2 separate regions of the Homo sapiens genome follow, and region 2 is linked to region 1. The links come from fine-mapping of genetic effects on gene expression. Tissue or cell type: lung. Region 1 holds a variant in brackets; the other region holds the start of a gene. All regions are shown on one strand. Distances are between the middles of the regions.

Region 1 (10,953 bases):
AATCCAATGTGATCATCATCGAATGGTCTCGAATGGAATCATCATCCAATGGAAACTAATGGAATCAACATCGAATGGAATCGAATGGAAACACCATCGAATTGAAAGGAATGGAATTATCATGAAATTGAAATGGATGGTCTCATCATCGAATGGATTCCAATGAAATCATCAAATGAAATTGATTGAAGTCATCATCAAATGGAATCAAATGGAATCATTGAATGGAATCGAATGGAATCATCATCAGATGGAAATGAATGGAATCATCATAGAATGGAATCGAATGGATTCATTGAATGGAATCAGATGGAATCATCCAATGGACTTGAATGGAATCATTGAATGGACTCGAATGGAATCATTATTGAATAGAATTGAATGGAATCATTGAATGGTCTCGAATGGAATCATTATCAAATGGAATCGAATGGAATCACCGACTAGAATCGAATGGAACAATCATCGAATGGACTCAAATGGAATTATCCTCAAATGGAATCAAATGGAATTATCGAATGCAATCGAATGGAATTATCGAATGCAATCGAATAGAATCATCGAATGGGCTCGAATGGAATCATCGAATGGAATGGAATGGAATAGACAATGAATACGAATGGAATCATCATTGAATGGAATCGAATGGAATCATTGAGTGGAATCGAATGGAATCATGATCAAATGTAATCAAAAGTAATCATCATCCAATGGAATCAGAAATAACCATCATCAATTGGTATTGAATGGAATTGTCATCAAACGGAATTCAAAGGAATCATCATCAAATGGAACCGAATGGAATCCTCATTGAATGGAAATGAAAGGAGTCATCATCTAATGGAATCGCATGGAATCATCATCAAATGAAATCGAATGGAATCATCATCAATTGGAATCTAATGGAATCATTGAACAGAATTGAATGGAATCGTCATCGAATGAATTGAATGCAATCATCGAATGTTCTCGAATGCAATCATATTCAAATGGAATGGAATTTAATAATCGCATAAAATCGAATGAAATTATCATCGAATGGACTCGAATCGAATCAACATCAAATGGAATCAAACGGAATTATCGAATGGAATCGAAGAGAATCATCGAATGGACTCGAATGGAATCATCTAATGGAATGGAATCATCTAATGGATTGGAATGGAATAATCCATGGACACGAATGCAATCATCATCCAATGGAATCGAATGGAATCATCGAATGGACTCGAATGGAATAATCCTTGAACGGAATCGATTGGAATCATCATCGGATGGATACGAATGGAATCATCATTGAATGGAATCGAATGGAATCATCAAATGGAATCAGATGGAATCATCATCAAATGGAATCGAGTAGAATTATGGAATGCAATCCAATGTGATCATCATCGAATGGACTCGAATGGAATCATCATCCAATGGAAACTAATGGAATCAACATCGAATGGAATCGAATGGAAACACCATCGAATTGAAAGGAAAGGAATTATCATGAAATTGAAATGGATGGACTCATCATCGAATGGATTCCAATGAAATCATCGAATGAAATTGATTGAAATCATCATCAAATGGAATCAAATGGAATCATTGAATGGAATCGAATGGAATCATCATCAGATGGAAATGAATGGTATCATCATAGAATGGAATCAAATGGATTCATTGAATGGAATCAGATGGAATCATCCAATGGACTTGAATGGAATCATTGAATGTACTGGAATGGAATCATTATTGAATAGAATTGAATGGAATCATGGAATGGTCTCGAATGGTATCATTATGAAATGGAATCGAATGGAATCACCGAATAGAATCGAATGGAACAATCATCGAATGGACTCAAATGGAATTATCCTCAAATGGAATCAAATGGAATTATCGAATGCAATCGAATGGAATTATCGAATGCAATCGAATAGAATCATCGAATGGGCTCGATTGGAATTATCGAATGGAATTTAATGGAATAATTGAACGGAATTGAATCGAATCGTCATCGAATGAATTGAATGCAATCATCGAATGGTCTCGAATGGAATCATCTTCAAATGGAAAGGAATGGAGTCATCGCATAGAATCGAATGGAATTATCATTGAATGGACTCGAATGGAATCAACATCAAACGGATTCAAACGGAATTATTGAATGGATTCGAAGAGTCATTGAATGACTCGAATGGAATCATCTAATAAAATGGAATCAAATAATCCATGGACTCGAATGCAATCATCATCGAATGGTATCGAATGGAATCATTCAATGGACTCGAATGCAATAATCATTGAACGGAATCGAATGGAATCATCATCAGATGGAAACGAATGGAATCATCATCGAATGGAAATGAAAGGAGTCATCATCTAATGGAATCGCATGGAATCATCATCAAATGGAATCGAATGGAATCATCATCAGATGGAATCTAATGGAAACATTGAACGGAATTGAATGGAATCGTCATCGAATGAATTGAATGCAATCATCGAATGGTCTCGAATGGAATCATCTTCAAATGGAATGGAATGGAATCATCGCATAGAATTGAATGGAATTATCATCGAATTGACTCGAATGGAATCAACATCTAACGGAATCAAACGGAATTATCGAATGGAATCGAAGAGAATCATCGAATGGACTCGAATGGAATCATCTAATGGAATGGAATGGAATAATCCATGGATTCGAATGCAATCATCATCGAATGGAATCAAATGGAATCATCGAATGGACTCGAATGGAATAATCATTGAACGGAATTGAATGGAATCATCATCGGATGGAAACGAATGGAATCGTCATCGAATGGAATCGAATGGAATCATCAAATGGGATCAGATGGAATCATCATCAAATGGAATCGAATAGAATTATGGAATGAAATCCAATGTGATCATCATCGAATGGACTCGAATGGAATCATCATCCAATGGAAACTAATGGAATCAACATCGAATGGATTCGAATGGAAACACCATCGAATTGAAGCGAATGGAATTATCATGAAATTGAATTGGATGGACTCATCATCGAATGGATTCGAATGGAATCATCGAATGAAATTGATTGAAATCATCATCAAATGGAATCGAATGGAATCATTGAATGGAGTCGAATGGAATCATCATCAGATGGAAATGAATGGAATCATCATAGAATGGAATCGAATGGATTCATTGAATTGAATCAGATGGAATCATCAAGTGGACTTGAATGGAATCATTGAATGGACTCGAATGGAATCATTATTGTATGGAATTGAATGGAATCATCGAATGGTCTCGAATGGAATCATCCTAGAATGGAATTGAATTTAATCATCAAATGGAATCGAATAGAATCATCATTGAATGGAATCGAATACAATCGGCATCGAATAGAATCGAATGGAATCATCATCAATGGAATCAAATGGAATTTTCTTCAAATGGAATCGAATGGAAACATCATCAATTAGAATCGAATGGGATCATTGAATGAAACTGAATGGAATCATCATCAAAACGAATCAAAATAAAACAAAGAATGGAATCCAACGGAATCATCGAGTGGGATCAAATGGAATCATCATTGAATGGACTCGCATGGAGTCATCATCAAATGGAATCAAATGGAATCCTTTAATGGACTCGAATGGAATCATTGAATGGACTCCAATGGAATCATCGAATGGAATCTAATGCAATCATCATCGAATGAAATCAAATGGAATCATTGAATGGAATTGAATGGAATCATAATCAAATGGAATCAAATGAAATCATGGAATGCACTCGAATGGAATCATCGAATGGACTCAAATGGAATCAACATTGAGTGGAATCGAAAGAAAACATCTAATGGAGTTGAATGGAATAATCAAATGGAATCATCATCGAATGGACTAGAATGGAATCATCGAATGTACCCGAAAAGAATCATCATCGAATGTAATCCAATGGAGTCATCTAATGCAATCCAATGGAATCATCATTGAATGGAATCGAATGGAATCATCATCGAATGGAATTGAATGGAATCATCATCAAATGGAGTCGAATGGAATCATCAATGAATGGAATCGAATGGAGTCATCGAATGGAGTCCGTTAGAATCATCATCGAATGGAACCGAATGCAGTCATCATCTAACGGAATCAAATGGAATCATCGAATGGACTCGATGGAATGATCATCACATGGAATCGAATGGAATCATCGAATGGACTCAAATGGAATCATCATTGAATGGAATCGAATGGAATCTTTGAATGGAAACAAATGAAATTATTGAATGGAATCGAATAGAATCATCATTGAATAGAATCAAATTGGATCATCATCAAATGGAATCTAATAAAATCATCATCGAATTGAATCTAGTGGAGTCATCATCTAATGGAGTTGAATGGAATCAGCAAGGAATTGAATTGAATTGAGAAATCGAATGGAATCCATTGGAATCATCATCGAATGGAACCGAACGCAGTCATCATACAATGGAACTGAATGGAATCAATGAAGGGACTCGAATTGTGTCATCATTGAATGGAAT[C/T]GGATGGAATCATCGAATGGACTCGAATGGAAACATCATTGTATGGAATCGAATGGAATCCTCGAATGGACTCTGATGGAATCATCATCAAATGGAATCGAATGGAATCGAATTGAATCATCAAATGGACTCTAATGGAATCATCATTGAATGGAATCGAATGGAATCATCAAATGGACTCGAATGGAATCATCATCGAATGGAATCGAGTGGAATCCTTGAATTGAAGCAAATGGAATCATCAAATGGAATCGAACAGATTTGTAAGAAACTTACTTGAACCAAAAAATAGAAAAACAAACAAACCAAAACCCCCTAAAACTTTGACGAGCAAAGTAGACATCAGAACAGGAAATATCACTGGGGATGAAGAATAACATTTCAAAATGACAAAGGGGAAAATACACCAAGAAGTCATGTAAATAAGAATTATGTATGCACACAATAACATTACCTCAAAATACATAATATAAAACCTATTAAAACTGAAAGGTAAAATAGTAAAACCACAGTCATCCATGGGGATTTCAACAGTCTCCTGCCAGAAATTTTTAAATTTTGTTAAACGAAAAGTTGGTAAGGGTAGAGAGGATCTTAAAAATATAATTAGCCAACTTGATCTAATTGAATCTTTTAGAATAATCTAAGAATGAGGAATGAGTTAGCAGAGAAAGAAAAGGCAGACATCAACGTGACATTAGTGTTTCAAGGCTATGAGAATACAACAATAATGGTGTGTGTGTGTGTGTGTGCAGATGGCAAGCTCAATCTTAAAAATATTGAGTTTTAACTGACAATTCATTATTAGGAAAGATAAGAGGAAATGATATCTAGTGAGAGGCTATATGACTGAACTCTAAGATAAAGATCACAGCAGAAATTGTGTACCTGACAGCTCTATAAGGAGGTCAGTCAAAAATAAGTCAGTGATGAATTCTCTGGTGTAAAAGCAGAGGAATGAGGATTAGATTTAAAACACATGGAAGCAGAGTGACTTATGATAAAAACATGAGCTTGAAAATCCTGCAGAGAGAGCTTTAAATCCTGGGTATGATATTCTGCTTGTGTAGGCAATAGTGATAAAAACACAACAACAAAGAGAGGTAAAGAGCACTTTCCTTTGATATAAGTAAAGGGCACGTCTTATTGCACATATATATATATAGGTATTCAACTGAAATTCAACATGTTTCTCTCATTGAAACAGCAAGCTCTCCAGGCCTTCATGTTCCCAGTGAGGTAGGTAACCTTCTGATGATTATACTCACCCTCCCTCATTGCAAAGCCCCATTGTTATTGTCTTGGCTCTGGATTCCCTCAAAAATAGACTATGAAACAAATATCTGGGGTCAGATACTTTAATCAGAAATTGAGTGAGAAAGCACAGAAGTGGAGAAAATGAAACAGAACACGAAGCCAGTGTGAATGAGTAGTTACTGCTATGTGCTCAGTAATGATGGAGGTATGGAGATTGTCTTAAAATAACTTTACAAAGAGATGGGGATGCTGGAATCCCCATCTCCTATTGCTTAAGGATTGCCTTAGAATCATTAACTCTCCACCCCTAACTGCTTCTTTGTTCCTATGTGTGGTTGAGAAGCACTGGTTAGCCTCAAGAAGCTTGCAGGCAGGCCCAAAAATCAGAAAGAAAGGCATGATGTGGGGAGCTCTCAGTTAGCTTGAAACAGGTGAATTTCAGGTGAACACATTGAGTCCAGGACATAGAAGACACGTCATCAGCAATATCTGCTATAGCCAGTTTTCTTTTTCTTTTTAAGAATATATGTACTTTTTATTGGGGGTCCCCAAGTCCCCCTTTGGTTTAATGATTCACGTAACTCAAGAAAGCTGATTTTTTTTTGTGGTTACAGTTTCTAACGTGAAAGAAACCAGATTAAAATAATCAGAAGCATAAAAGCACATAAAGTTGAGTCCAGGACAAACCAGATGTGAGCGTACAGGTGTCCTTTCATAGTGGGGACTTCACACTGACTAATTTTCTTTACAATGGTGTGAGACAACTTGTGTGAACTTGTTGCCAACTAGGGAAGCTCAGTCAGTCTTGAGTCCAGGGTTTTTATTAGGATTCCACCACATATGCATCGAGCGTCCTGTGACTGAACTTAGCTACTTAGTTCCCAACCTCCCTATGCCCTAAGAGAGGTCATATTAATATAGCATTACACAAAGTCATAGGCATATAGAAACAGGTGCTCACAAGAAATCACGTTGTTAGCATCAGCTATTTGATAAGACCTACATTTTCAGGTATACAAAGACTCTCATCAGGCAGCATATACCAAGGGCTCATAGGTTATCATCTCCTAGGAGCTTGTCAAGGGCCAGTCCTGAAGACCTTTGGAATGTGCAAGGTTTTGGAAAGCCATGTCTGCAGAATTAACCCTTCATTGCACAACTTCCAAGAATTTTTTTTTATCTTTAAAAATGTTTTTTGATCTTTGACAATGTACCAACCAATACTGAGTAATTAGTAACAACAGTGTACTCCTGAGTACTTGCAACTGCAAGGAGAAAAAGGACAGATGCACTTACATAGGACAGATGCAAATAGACACCATTATGACAAGTAAAGCTGGAATAATCAATAAATTCCTAAAGACAAAGTGGGGCTGGTCAGATTGGGAGACCGCTGACAGCTGCAGAAGTTGGGAAAGATCCATCATCTTGAATCTTTTTCCCCACAAACCCACTATGATCTGTCAAGCAATTGGTAAGGAATCCAAGAGAGTCTGTATATGATACAGACCAGGGAGAGCAGAACACTTGGGAGGTGATGAGGTCTTGGGGGCTGAGCCCTTATGAATGGGATTAGTGTCTTTATAAAAGAAGCTCAATGGAGTTCTTGTGTGCCTTCCACTATGTGAGGACATAGAAAGAAGGCACCATCTATGAACCATGAAATTGGCTCTCATCAACACTGAATTTCTGAGCATCTTGACCTGAGATCTTACAGCCTCAAGAAGTGTGAAAAAAGAAATATCTGTTGTTTTTTAGTCACCCGGTTTATGTTATTTTGTTATAAGAGTCCAAATAGACCAAGATATTCCACTTAATATGTAGGGGAAGGCAACAAAAACTGCCACACTTAGAATACTCCTGACGCTGGGAGTATGAAAACAGGAAAAACAAAACAAAACTGCTCTTGAAGGTGAAGGAGGAATATCACTGAGCTCACCAACACAGCCAGGAAAAGAACAGAAGTGTGAGAAGGCTACATTCCTGAGACCCTGAGAAAAAGTACCTGCATAAGACTGAGATGAAATTACCTACCTTAGTTATAATTGAAATCCCAAAAAGAAAAGAGGAAAAAATAATGGAGCAAAAGAAATATATTTCAAAATAACTGCCAAAAATATTCTAAAAGAAGTGACAGGAAATCAAACTTCAGATATAGGAAACTCAGAGAATGTCAAATAGAACAAAAAGAAATAAGAATTCCATCTTGAAAAATCTTTAAAAAATCAACTCTAAATTTTATATCTTGCTCCAAATATATAGAGGTATAAATAGGTTATCATCAAGATATGGAGAAAGCCATATCATGGAAACACTAAAATAAAGCTGTGGAAGGACTACATTGATATTAGACACAACAGAGTTCAGAACAAGAAATAGTATGAGATGAGAGATAATAAATAATATAATAATCAATTCTCAAGATGTAAACATCCTACTAATTAGGATATGCAGCTAACAACAGAACCTCCAAATACATGAGGTAAAACAGGAAAGAAATCAAAGGTAAACTAGAAAAATCCAAAATTATATTTGCAGACTTCAACACTTTTGTTTTAGTAATGGACAGACTAGGCACAAACTCAGTAATCATATGGAAGATAAGAAAAACAATATCACCAACAAGACATCCAATCTTCAATGGCAGATACTTTTTCCTTTCAAGTGAAAAAAAAAACAGTATGGCATATTCTCTAACAAACCCAGAATTTCTAATATTTGCTTTCTTCCTTCCTTCTTTCCATCTTCCTTTCTCTTCTCTTCCCTTGCCTTCTTCCTTCCTTTCTTTTCCGCTTTCTTTTCCTTTCTTTTTTCTCCTTCCTTCCTTCTTTCCTTCCCCTTATTCTTCCTTCCCTCCTCCCTCCCTTGCTTTCTCCCTCCCTTCTTTTCTCTTATTCTTTCTCACTTTCTTTCCTTTTTTCTCCCTTCCTCCCTCCCTTTTTTCCTTCCTGCCTCCCTTCCTTTCCTTTTTCCTTCCTTCCTCCCTTCTATTTTCTTTGTTTGCCTTCCTCCCTGTTACCATTCTCTCTTCCTCCTTTCCTTCCTCCTTCCATCACTTTTTCTTTCTTTCTTGAGTTCTTGCTTTCTTTTTTCTCCTTTCCTGCCTTTCTCCCTTCCTCCCTCCCTTCTCTCATTTCCTCCTTTACTTTCTTCTTTCCTTCCTTCCTTTTTTCTTTCTCTTTAGTACAATTCATATTATTTAAAAAAAATTAAGAAAGAGAGGCAGAAAAATAAAGAACACTTTAATCTGCAGGTAAATAGATTATGTCTGCTGTAGACAAAATAATGGACTCACAAAAATGTTCATGTCCTAATTCCCGGAGTCTAACATACAAATATGTTAGGTTGCATGGCAGTGGGAAATTAGATTTCAAGTGAAATTAAGGTTCCAAAGGCAGCGGGGACAAAAAGCCACGGCGGCAAAAAAGCGCGGCAGCAGGGGCAAAAAGCCACGGCGGCAGTTGGAGAAAGACGCGGCGGTGGGGACAAAAAGCCACACTGAGGGGGGTAAAAAGCCACTGAGGCGGGGGCAAAAAGCAGCGGGAGCGGGGGCAAAAAAAACACAAAAAGCCGCGGCGGCTGGGGGAAAAAGCCGTGGTGGCAGGGTGCAAAAAAGCTGCAGCGACAGGGGCGAAAAGCCCCGGCGGCGGAGGCAAAAGACTGCGGCAGAGGGGGCAAAAAGCTGCGGCAGTGGCGGTTAAAAAAAGCCACGGCGGCAAAAACCCGCGGCGGTGGGGGTAAAATCCCGTAGTGGCGGGGGAAAAAACAGCGGTGGCAAAAAGTCACGGAAGCGGGGGCAAATAGCCCTGGTGGCGGGTGCAAAATGCCGCAGCGGTGAGGACAAAAAGCCGTGGCTTCAGGGACAAAAAGCTGCAGCAGCGAAAAGCTGTAGTGGCGGGGGCAAAAAGCCACGGCAGCGGCGGGGGGGCAAAAAGCAGCGGCGGCGGGAACAAACACCGCCGCGGCAAAAAGCCTCAGTGGCGGGGGCGAAAAGCCGCGGCGGCGGGGGAGAAAAGCCACAAAAAGCCATGGTGGCGAGGCTAAAAAGCTGTGGCTTTGGGGGCAAAAAGCCACAGCCTCAAAAAACCATAGTGGTGGGGCAAAAAGCTGCGGTGGCGGGGACAAAAAGCAGCAAGAGCGGGGGCAAAAAAATCACAAAAACCCGCGGAGACGGGGGGAAAAATCCACGGGGGCAAAAAGCCGCAAAAAGCAGCAGCGGCAGGGGCAAAAACCGCGGCGGCAAATAGCCTCAGTGGCAGGAGCCAAAAGCCATGGTGGCGGGGGCAAAAAGCCGTGGTGGTGGGCCCAAAAAGCCGCGGTGGTGGAATAAAACTGTGACTGCAAAAAGCCACGGCGATGGGGATAAGAAGCTGTGGCGGGGGCAAAAAGCCACAGCGGCGGGGAGTAAAATGCCGCAAAAAGCCGCGGTGGCGAGGGCAAAAAGGTGTGGCTTCGGGGGCAAAAAGCTGTAGCGGCTGGGCAAAAAGCCGCGGTGGCGAAGGCAAAAAGCTGTGGCTTTGGGGGCAAAAAGCCGCGGCAGCGGCTGGGGCGGAAAAACCACAAAAATCCGCTGAGACAGGGGGAAAAAGACGCGGGGGCAAAAAGCCGTGGCGACAGGGGGAAAAAATCTGCAAAAAGCAGCAGCGGCAGGGTTAAAAACCGCAGCGGCAAAAAGCCTCAGAGGTAGGAGCAAAAAGCCACGGCTGCGGGAGGGCAAAAAGCCACGGTGGTGGGACCAAAAAGCCATGGCGGTGGGAATAAAAAGCCGCGGCTGCAAAAAGCAGCGGCGGTGGGGATAAAAAGTCGTGACGGCAAAAACCCGCGGCGGTGGGGGCAATAAGCCGTGGCGGCACGGGGAAAAAGCCGTGGCGGCGAGGGCAAAAAGCTGTTGCTTCGGGGGCAAAAAACCACGGCGGCAAAAAGCCCTAGTGGTGGGGCAAAAAGCAGCGGGAGCGGGTGCAAAAAACAAAAACCCGGGGCGACGGGGGGAAAAAGCCGCATGGGCAAAAAGCCGCAGTGGCAGGGGGTCAAAAAGCCACGGCGGTGGGGGGGCAAAAAGCTGCAAAAAGCAGCGGCGGCGGGGGCAAAAACTGCAGAGGCAAAAAGCCTCAGCGGCAGGAGCAAAAAGTCATGGCGGCGGGGGCAAAAAG
Region 2 (10,953 bases), 370 kb after region 1:
TGCTTGATCAGACTGAAAGGCTGAGACATTGTTGGTGCCAAGCTCACTAGCACTAGTAAATCTCTCCGGGCTCTGGGTATGCATGGAGCTGGCACTGATGTCATCACCTCCATGATGTAGATCTTGCTTATCAAACACTGCAACCAGCTAGAAATGAAACACAAATGTGCATTTATAAATAAAGACATTTAAATTACTACCAAAAATTTATACTACTTTAACATAAGTCTACAGTGGGAAAATACCCGAGTGACCCCAGAATGTTAAGTTTTAAGAAGCAAAACCTTGGCTGGGCGTGGTGGCTCATGCCTGTAATCCCAGCACTTTGGGAGGGCAAGGTGGGTGGATGACCTGAGGTCAGAAGTTCGAGACCAGCCCGGCCAACATGGTGAAATTCTGTCTCTACTAAAAATACAAAAATTAGCCAGGTGTGGTGGCACACGCCTGTAGTCCCAGCTACTCAGGGAAGCTGAGGCAGGAGAATTGCTTGAACCCAGGAGGCAGAGGTTGCAGTGAGTGGAGATCGCGCCAATGCACTCCAGTCTGGGCGACAGCATGAGACTCCATCTCAAAAAAAAAAAAAAAAGAAAAGAAAAGAAAAGAAAAAAAAGAAAAACCTTAAAAAGACAATGTTTCTGTTAATGTTGATGCTTTATTTCTACATTTCTGAAGTGAATATTTTATAGACAAAATTCTATGGCTGAAAAATAATGAAACTGTTTGCTATCACAGCATGCTAAGATGAAAGTAAGTTTAAATATGTTCTAAAATATAGGCTATATTGTTAAGTGGAAAGAAAAAATGCAAAACACAGAGCGAGAATGTGTATATATATATATATATATACACACACACACACACGTGGTATAAGCTACACTTCATATAATGAGAAGGGGATATTAAAAATTATACATGTTATCTGCACATTTGTGCATAAGATATCTAAAAAGGATAAAAAGGAACCTAATGAAATGGGAATCTAATAAAAGGAAATCTAATAATATGAGCATGCAGAAAGAGGTGGGGAAGAACATAACTAGCCTAAGTAACTTTGGAAAACTATTTTCATTGTTGAAAGCTAAAGACAAAAAAAAGTCCCACAAATACTATTTTCTAATTAGTAAATTTATTTCTCAACAAGCATACGGTTTCACAATTCTCAATCTACTATACACACACATACACACACACACACACACACACACACACACACCAGGAACAAACAAACAAGTTAACATATTTTGGAAAATAAAAGCCAATTTTCTCACTGTTAGAAGTTACAAAGAAGGAAAAGCTAGAATAAACTCAGTGGTGTTAGAGTGGAATCAAAGGCAACAGTAAGAACTCACAGTTTTTATAAGTAGGTAGGTAGGTACACAGTCAGATAGGTATAGACAAATGTCAATGCATGTGTGAGTACACCAACATAGAGTTCTTAGCTCTGTCAATGGAGAGATCCTAGAGTAAATGACATTCCAGTGCTAATGAGCACACCTAGTGCTCAGATCATGGTTTCTAGTACCATTCTCCAGTTAATGATGAACCAGGGCTCCCTAGAAATAGGGTTAATTTCAGGGCTGAGGTCAGAGAAGATGCATGATAAGCCTGGAACACTTTGTGATGCCAAAAATAAGGAAGAACTCAAAAATGATGAAGGCATATCAAAAGGAAACAGGTGCCAACCTGAAGGGGCTCTCAATGGCCAATGTTGAGTGTTGGGAGAAAAGCTGAGTGTTGGGAGAGAAGCTGAGGCAGGGCTTGGAACACGTCCAGGGTCTAGGATTAAAACCCCTCGTGGTCTTTGGAATGTGTCTAGACTTGCTGGCTCCTTGCTTCTAGCACTCCCTTTATCTCAAGTAGCCGTATGTTTCAAAGAAAATGCTAAACCGTCACAGCTGTAGCTCATTCACTTGATACACCGCTTCCTTTCAACCCCCACATCTTCACTGCCTGTTTCTTTGTTTGATCATCAATAAATAGTGTGGGATCCCAGAGCTCAGGGCCTTTGCAGCCTCCACACTAGCATTGGCTGCATGGTCCCACTTTCTCTTTTAACTTGTCTTTTCTCGTTCCTTTGACTCCGCCAGACTTAGTAGCCCCCATGGCCTGGTGTTGGGTCTGATCACTCCAACAGTTGAGACAACCTGAAAATAAAATAAATAATATTAGCATTGGATCATAATCCAAAGAATACACTAAACAGCCATGAGTCCATAATAATATAAATAATTGAATAAATAAGTGGTGTAGAAGCAACAGCTGTTTCCTACTAGAACATTCCAAATAAATGCAGAAGTAATGATGGAAAGAAATCATTAGGCAACCTCCACCGTAATAACTGCTATAGGTAAAAATCTACTCATGGGTCCTAGGACTAATGGGGGAGAATACAATATCAAACAGGATATTTGTATATCTCTAAATGTCTCCCCGTATGATACATTTCAGCTAAAAAGGGAAAAATATTTGGCAGCCCCCACTGTACCAAGATTAACATCACCAGTAATGGCAACATCACGTACCATCTGATAAAATGCCCTGAGAAGTATGTAACATTACTTCTGTGACATTCCTGCCACATGAATCGTATTTATTTCATAGACTGTACCTTCATTTGGGTTTGTCTGATGTTGCCTCATGATTAGATGGAAGGTTACTTCATGATGAAACATTCCACAAACCCAAATGGAAGTGCAGTCTACAAAATATTTACAAAATAAATATAATTCTTAAAAAGTATCAAGGCCATGAATACAAAAGAAATAATGAGAAAATTATGCAAACTGGAGGAGGCTGACGAAAAATGAGAACTACATGCAATGAGGACAGAAAATGGGTACTGGAGGGAGAATTCAGATGCGCTCTGAACATTAGTTGACTGTACTGACTCAGTATGAGTTTTTCACCTTTAATAATTGTTCTATGATTATGCTAAACATTAACATTAGGGATAGGTGAAGGGTATGCAGAAATACTGTTAATATTATTTCAATTTTTCTGAAGTATATAATTATTTCAAATTGAAACGTTTTAAAATAAAAATTGATTCTATTTCTTCTTATAACTAATACAGCTCTTAAAATGTTAGTACACTTATTAAAAATCCCATTGAGAATAAGGTCTAAGGATCAACAATGACTGTCACCTTGGGATATTCATCCTACAGCCCCATGCCTAGAGGAACTAACCTTAGGATTCTGATGAGAAAACCATGCCTGAAGCCAAAATCCACCCCTTTTCTGCCTCCAATCCAAGGACAGAAATATACATGTACAGAATTCAAATAGCACACATAATTACAATCCTCATTTTATAAATAGTTTTGTCACTTGGAACAAATGCTATTTCCATGAATATGTACATTTTACATATCATCAATCCATTTATGAAACAACAAAGAGGGTCATAGAGACATGTAAACAAACAAGAAGCTCAGAACCCTGCTGAGGTATAATATAAAAACACCTGATTAAATAATCTGGAAGGAGGGTAAATGGTATGAAGAAATCAAAACAGGATGAATAGTTGAGCCACTCAAAGTTACAGGGAGCAAACTAAGTGGGAAAATAAATCGTTAACAGTTACAAAAACTGGAAATGTGCTTGTATATATGAGACAAATTGTCCATAAAATCAACTTGTTTATCTGACATTGGCTGGCAAGGATCTCCCTGTACTAGTAACACAGACATTCAACTAGATTAGGAGTCATCCAGCAACTTTTCCTGAAAATGGCAAAACAGTAAACATGTTTGGAGCTGTGGTCCACATCATCTATTCCATATTCTACTCGACCTCTGCAGCATGAGAGCAGCCATAGACAACACATAAACAAGTAAACAGGGTTACGTTTAAACAAAACTTTAAGTATAAAAGCAGTACTGATAGGGTTTTTGCATATGTTACTTTAATTATGACTTTAATTGCTTAAAGTATTTCCTGGAAACACGAAGTTGTTAACAAGTGTTAGTTATTTTTGTTTGAGAGAATTTCAAGAGATTGAAATTATCAACAGAGGAATGTGAAAGTCGTTGGGCATTAAGCTAAGCCATAAAAACTTTACCCTGAAAATCGTGGGGGTGTCCTTGAATGCCCACGAGTTTAATTTCCATTTTCTGCCTGAGGTTTTAAGGAGTATGCAGGATTAGGAGGGTAAACACTCATAGCTCATTAGTCTAACAGTGAAGAAACCATGAGGGCCTAGAGTAATGGAAAGGCAATGAAGTGAAAAGACAGTTAAAATGTGTAATTTTCCAAATACAGAACTGAGATATTTAAAAGGATTGTATGTGGTGGTTGGGTGCCATTACAAAGGAGGTGGATGAATTTTAGGCGTCTAGATTTGTGGTGCTGATGGTTGGGCAGGGGACAAGCACACAGGGAAACAAGGAAAAAAGATGTATTTAGGTTTAGGTAAAAATATCACATGCTCAGTATCCAATTCCTGTTAAACACCTGGAGATGGGAGTCTGTGGTGCAAAGGGAGTTCGAGTTTAACTATACACGATTGGGTGATGCTGGCATGCAAGGAGAGATGAAGCCATGGATTTCATTAAGGACCCCAATCTGAATGTGGACCGCACACAAGAATCAGAACCAAAACCTGGACACAGCCAAGACTGCAGGTTTCTCTTCCCTTGCTCCAAATCCACTTTCAGAAGAATTAGAGAAGAATTGACTAAAGAATGTAAGTAAACTCCAGGAAACAGGGTTCCACAGAAGCTGGGGAAAGGTCAGTACGTGGAAGAGAGAGATCAGTAGTACCTGCTCGCTACAAGGAGGCGCCTCCAAATGTCAATGCCTATTTTCAACAAGTGGGACCCAAAGTGATTCATGCCAGTGCTCTAAAATACACCTGACCCTTGAACAATGTGGGGGATATGGATGCTAACCCCCCACAGTCAAAAATCCAAGTTTAACTCTCAACTCCCCCAAAGCATAACTCCTAACGGCCTGCGGTTGACCGGAAGTCTTTGTCACTAATAATACAAAAAATTAAGACCTATTTTGCCTGTTATTCACATTACACACTGAATATGCTGCTCCCAGCGGAGGCCGAGACTCCTGCCCGGGCACCCCCTCACAGCCCCCACTCCAGCCTCCCCAGACTCACCCTCGGCGGGGCCACCTTCTTCTCATTTCAGTCTGGGGCCACATTCTCCGGGCCTGCGGGGCATGGCAGGAGGCAAAGCCAAAGGCGAAGTGGCCACAAATTCCGGTGGGGGCGCTGGCTCCTGCCCCACCCCAGCATCTATACCCTGAGTCTGATAGGACGAGAAGGAACATTTCAGCCAGCCCTGATTGGGTCATATTATCCAATCAGAGTTGTTTTGCACAGTGGCTCTCATCCAATCCGAACATGCCTTACAGGATATCTAGTTAAATAAGTCATTATAAATAGTTGCTCCGTGGGCTTTCCGCATTTCACCCTGCTCCAGGCAGCGTGGTCTGTATGGCTCCGCCCTGGGCAGGAGGAGAAAGAAGAGGGCCAGGCACCACGTGCCTGCACTCTCCCTGGATGCTGGAGGCTGCTCCGCCGTGGGCAGGAGGAGAAGGAAGAGAACTGGGTGCCGCCTGCCTGCACTCTCTCCGGATGCTGGAGGCTGGAGGCAGTGAGGCAGCAACAGCGCGAGGGCGAGGCGACTTTGGAGCTGCCTCATGCAGCGACCTCGCCTTCCGCTGCGCCTCCTCCCAGAACCCAAGAAGCCTGGAACCTGTGGCGTCCAGCCCTGAAAGGAGGAGACGGCAACCCAGCCGCGCGTGAGTCCGGGAGTCTGGGATACCGGCGGCAGAGGAAGGACAGGCAGGAGTCTCGGCCTCTCGGGGAGCGACGTGCCGGGAAAGGCAGGAGGGCCCCAGCGGTGGGGGCGGGGGTTGCGCGCCGGGGAGGGCGGCCTCAGGCTGGGAGCCTGGCAGATCGTCTGACTCTCCCCGAGCCCCATCCCAGGCCGAGCCAGGACCCCTCTGATGCACAGGCGTCTCAGGAGCCCGTTTCTTTCTTGAATCCGGGGCCCAGTGCGGCTTGAACCTAGCCCCCGACCTCCTCCTCGCCCTCTCAGAGTCCGCTGGGGTGGGCGCTGAAGGAGCCCGGGTCGGAGAGGAGCCCTCCCCTTCTCTCCTGCGTGGAAGCCCTGCAGCCTCCGTTTCTTTTGGGACTGGGGTCCGGGGCCTTCTGCCTGACCCGGGGTGAGAAAGGGAGCCCTGATCAGGACCCGGTGAGAGGGCGCTGGAGCCCGGGAGCGGCAGGAGCCTTGAGCGGCAGCCCGGGAAGAGGATGGGGTCACCTTCTGCCCCAGGTCCCCCACTGCCAGGATCTCTGTCACCTTCTGGGGGTCCTGTCCCCTGGGGTCCCACCCCCCGGGCTGCCTGTGGGTATCTCTCATCTGGAACTGGAAATAACCCTCTTCATAGTACGGCTTAGCAAATATTTATTCGCCCATGCACCCCCCTTTTTTTTCCTTCATAGTGTTCTTTTTGTCTTGGATCATTTGTGTTTTTCCTACATTGATGTGAAGCATTTTTAAAGACACTTTAGAGATTAGTCCTTTATTGGTTCATTTCTATTGTAGGTTGTTGTTTCCTACTCTGGTCTTTGTTGTTTAATTTCAGTTTTAATTTCTTGCTTGGTTTAGTTCATGTAACAATATTTTTCTTAGAATATTTGTATCTGTGTTTGTGAAACAGAACATCTATTATTTCTGGGTTTTTTATTGTCTGATCAGATTGTGTATTAATGTAATGCTGGCTTCTCGAAACAAATTGAAAAACCATCCCTTTCGTCTTTCTCTTTGAGAGAGAGTGAGCAGTGTCAATATTTTTTTCTTCCTTAAATATTTGGAACATTTTCAAAGTCTGATCCTGGTGTTTTCCTTGTGGAGCATTATTGTTGATTTGTTGGATTTTTAAAATTAGTTAGTTAATTTTGTTTAATATATATAGGAGTGTTCTTATTTTATGCTATTTTTGTGCCAGTTTTAGTAAGTTGGGTTCAGCATCTGTTGCGATCTCTGTTGTCAGACTTTTGATCATATGTATTTCACAAAATTCTCTGATTATCTTGTTATAATACTGTTATGTAGAGTTGTTGTTTTGATTCTGATACTGGTCACTTGTGTTCTTTCATCTTTTTTCCTTAATCAGTTTTGCCTGCACTCTCCCTGGATGCTGGAGGCTGGAGGCAGTGACGCAGCAACAGCGCGAGGCGACTTTGGAGCGGCCTCATATAGCGACCTCGCCTTCCGCTGCGCGTCCTCCCAGAGCCCAAGAAGCCCGGAACCTGTGGCATCCATCTCTGAAAGGAGAAGACGGCAACCCAGCCGAGGGTGAGTCCGGGAGTCTGGGGTGCCGGCAGCGGAGGAAGGACAAGCAGGAGTCTCGGCCTCCCGGGGAGAATTTCACAAAATTCTCTGATTATCTTGTTATAATACTGTTACGTAGGCTGTTGTTTTGATTCTGATACTGGTCTCTTGTGTTCTTTAATCTTTTTTCCTTAATCAGTTTTGCTAGTGGTTTATTAACTATGTTGTTTATAAAAACAACTTTTAGCCTTGGTTTATTTGTGTTATGTTTTTTTTTCCATTTCATTGATGTTTGTTATCTTTATTATTGCCTTCATCCTGTATTCTTTGCACTTGATTTTTCTTTCTTGATTCTTGAGAAAAAAGTTGAGGTGCCGGGCACGTTGGCTTACGCCTGTAATCCCAACACTTTGGGATGCCAAGGTGGGTGGTCAGGAGTTCCAGACCAGCCTGGCCAACATAGTGAAACCCCCATCTATACTAAAAATACAAAAATTAGCAGGGCGTGGTGGCAGACACCTGTAATCCCAGCTACTCGGGAGGCTGAGGCATGAGAATCGCTTGAACCTGGGAGGTAGAGGTTGCAGTGAGCCGAGATCGCCCCATTGCACTCCAGCCTGGGCAACCGAACAAAACTTCTTCTCAAGAAAAAAAAAAGAAGTTGAGGTGATTGATTTTCAGTGTTTCTGGACTCCTGCCCTGCAGAGATCCTCTTGCTGTAACCTGTTTCATGTGAGGTAGAGTTTAGAAAATATTTATTGGCCTCTGTGCCTTACTTTTCTTCATATACTCTTCTTATTTTGTTGATTTATCTTTAGGGATTTTTTTCCTTATGTTAAATTGAAGGACTTATTGTTAAAATCTGTAAGTTAGCCCTTTATTGGCTTATTTTTGTCATAGGTTCTTGTTCTCTAGTTTGATTTTTGTTGTTTCATTTCTTTGTGTTCATAGTTGTATATAGTAATCTGGTTGATAATGATCTTGTATGCAGTAGCTTTGCTTAATTTATTTATTAATTGTAACACTTTATGTCATGTTAGGCTGTGCTGAGTGCTTCTGGGAGCAGCCAGGTTTCCATGAACTCCCAGTTTACTCTAAATACTCTAGCAGCCCACATGTGCACACACTGGATAATGGTCATGCATGTAGAGCAATGATGCTGGGGAGGCACCGACTCTGTCATTCTGTGAATCCACCGCACAATCACAAACATTAGCATTAAAATAAAATGGACTGTTAGGCAACTGCAAAGGACTAATGCACCTATGTGGCACAAATGTGTCTTTCCGTATTCAAAGTACTTGTAAGAGCTTCAAGTTCCTCATACTCAGCCACTGACCTCAGGGTTCTTGGTACACAGGCATACATGTGCAGACACACATACAGGCACACATATACACATGAATGCACATATGTGCACACATATTTACAGGCACATGCAGATGTGCACACACAGACCTGGGTGAGAAAGTCAGATGTACATGGAACAGCCCCTGCTTTGTAAGCTGTCTGGCTTTGTAGGGAGAAAGAGGTGAAACAACACACTTGTTATCTTGGAAGAGGAGATGAAGGGAGCTGAGCTGGATATGTCCAGTGGGGAGAAAGCCAGGAGCCACTCCACCGAAAATCGAGGTCTCCACATGGATGATACCCACAAAACATTGGCAGGAAGGACACAGCCAGCACCACATCAGTGGTGACTTTCATGAGTGTCAACTGTGGCCATCCAAATTAAAGGCCTGGCAATGGGATAAGTTAGCAACTGAACTTTCTGTATGTTACCTTATTAACTTTCTGTATATTAGCTTATTAACTTTCTGCAATCAAATGCTGATTAAGCATTTTCTGAGCCAAAAGCTTTGTGTAATTTGAATCTAGTGAAAAAATGTTATGCGTTTAACACTATAACTTGAGATCTAAAAACAAAAAAACAATTGCATAAGAATTGGTCAGATACCTTGTCTTTGAAACATACTGAAGTCTTCAAAATTAATCTGATAGCTCTGCAGTTGGTATGTGGCATAAGAAAATATTTGGCATGAAGGGGAGTAACACACCACATGAATTCATTCATTATGAAGAAATTCATTATGAATATATGTGGGCAAATTATTAACAACCCTCCCAAAAGCAGAAAGCTCAGACTCAGGAAGATCCATTTAAATGGAGTGATTTGGGAGATGATTTCAAGCGCAACTCTGCATTGACTCAGCATTTATTAAGTCATACAGCAGGCTACTGGAGGCCTCACTGCAGCCTGGGCTGGTATTCAGTGTCCTCCTCCTTCCTTCTCAGTAGACTTCCTTGGCCTTGATAATAATACGTGTTAACAAACACAAATCTCAAAATACACATAATGTTTCTTCCCCCACAAGCCAGGGTATCAGCTCTGCAAATCAGATGACCCCAAGGTCAGTGGGGTTGACCAGGGACACCATTCTGCATTCCTCCTCAGCTTCCAGATCCTGAGGAGCTCTGGGGCCTTCCTTCTGGACAGGGAACATGTCTGCCTGGCTTCCTCAGCCAGGTACGGGAGGCTTTGGGGACCTGTGTCTGTCTCTGGGAAGGAGGAAGGAGCCTGTGGCATCTTCCTTAAGCAAAAGCACATCCAGCCCATGGCCAAACTTCAGAGTGGGGCGAGGGGCCCAGCACAGCTCCTCCGTTCCTGCAGCAGAGCCCAGAAAACACATCTGATGTTGTGGCTGCCTCAAACCTACAAACACCATGGGTTTGAAGTGTCCTGTTGACATGGCCATGGCCACTTTCCCCGTGGACCGTGGCAAGTTTTTGTTTTTGGTTTTTGTTGTTTGTTTGAGACAAGGTCTCACTTTGTGGCCCAGGCTAGAGTGCAGTGGTGCAAACTCGGCTCATTACAGCCTCCACCTCCTGGGCTCAAGCAATCCTTCCACCTCAGCCTCCCAAAGTGCTAGAATTCCGGGCTTGAGCCACCGTGCCAGGCCTTGTGTAGAAGTATTATACATTATCTTTAAAATGTAGTTTAGTGCTAATAATCTAAAATTGTGTTGCCATTTACTATTAATATGCCCTTTGTGGTGCATCTAATAAAATGCTTTGCTTCATAACCTGAAACAAAAAAACTTTCACTATATTTACTTGATCAGATCAACAACTATAGAAGTCTTAGAATAATGATATTCTTACTCAAAAGAAAAGCAACAACTCATCTTTAATGAAACTGTTTCTGTGTTTTATTAGTGGTTGAGAAATAACACATTCCTTCAGCAGTGGCAGCAGTCAGATACCATATGAATTTTTTATTTTTTTTTACTTTGATAAATCCTGAGGCTCTGTTGAGGAAGAAGCTTCCACAGTAGGCCCTAGGAGAGCTGCAGCCACCATGTCCACACTGTGTTATGCACAAATGGGAATGTAGTTTCCCAGAGAAAACAACTTCTGTGGGTAGATTTGTGATCGAAGTTTGTGAATAGCTTTAAAAAATCCTTATGAAGGCCAGGCACAGTGGCTCACGCCTGTAATCTCAGCACTTTGGGAGGCTGAGGCAGGCAGATCACCTGAGGTCAGTTCGAGACCAGCTTGACCAACATGGAGAAACCCCATCTCTACTAAAAATACAAAAATTAACCAGGCATAGTGGCACATGCCTGGAATCCCAGCTACTTGGGAGGCAGAGGCAG

The links. PIP is the estimated chance that this variant, and not a neighbour inherited with it, causes the effect.
Region 2: LINC00839 starts here. The variant in region 1 is the best candidate, but not a certain one, in a credible set for the expression of LINC00839 in lung (GTEx, PIP 0.69).

The regions. Positions count from the first base shown.
Region 1 is chr10:42,101,833-42,112,785 of GRCh38, forward strand. No RefSeq gene overlaps it. Among named protein-coding and RNA genes, the nearest start is that of LINC00839, 370 kb to the right of the region's middle. RefSeq lists enhancers at 1-152, 1,225-1,760, 1,761-2,296, 2,297-2,832, 2,833-3,368 and 2 more. The variant C/T (reference allele first, on the strand shown) is at 4,547.
Region 2 is chr10:42,470,122-42,481,074 of GRCh38, forward strand. It overlaps LINC00839 (long intergenic non-protein coding RNA 839), which reads left to right and starts at 5,370. Exons shown (of 5, transcript NR_026827.1): 1 at 5,370-5,759; 2 at 7,140-7,321. It also overlaps the pseudogene CCNYL2.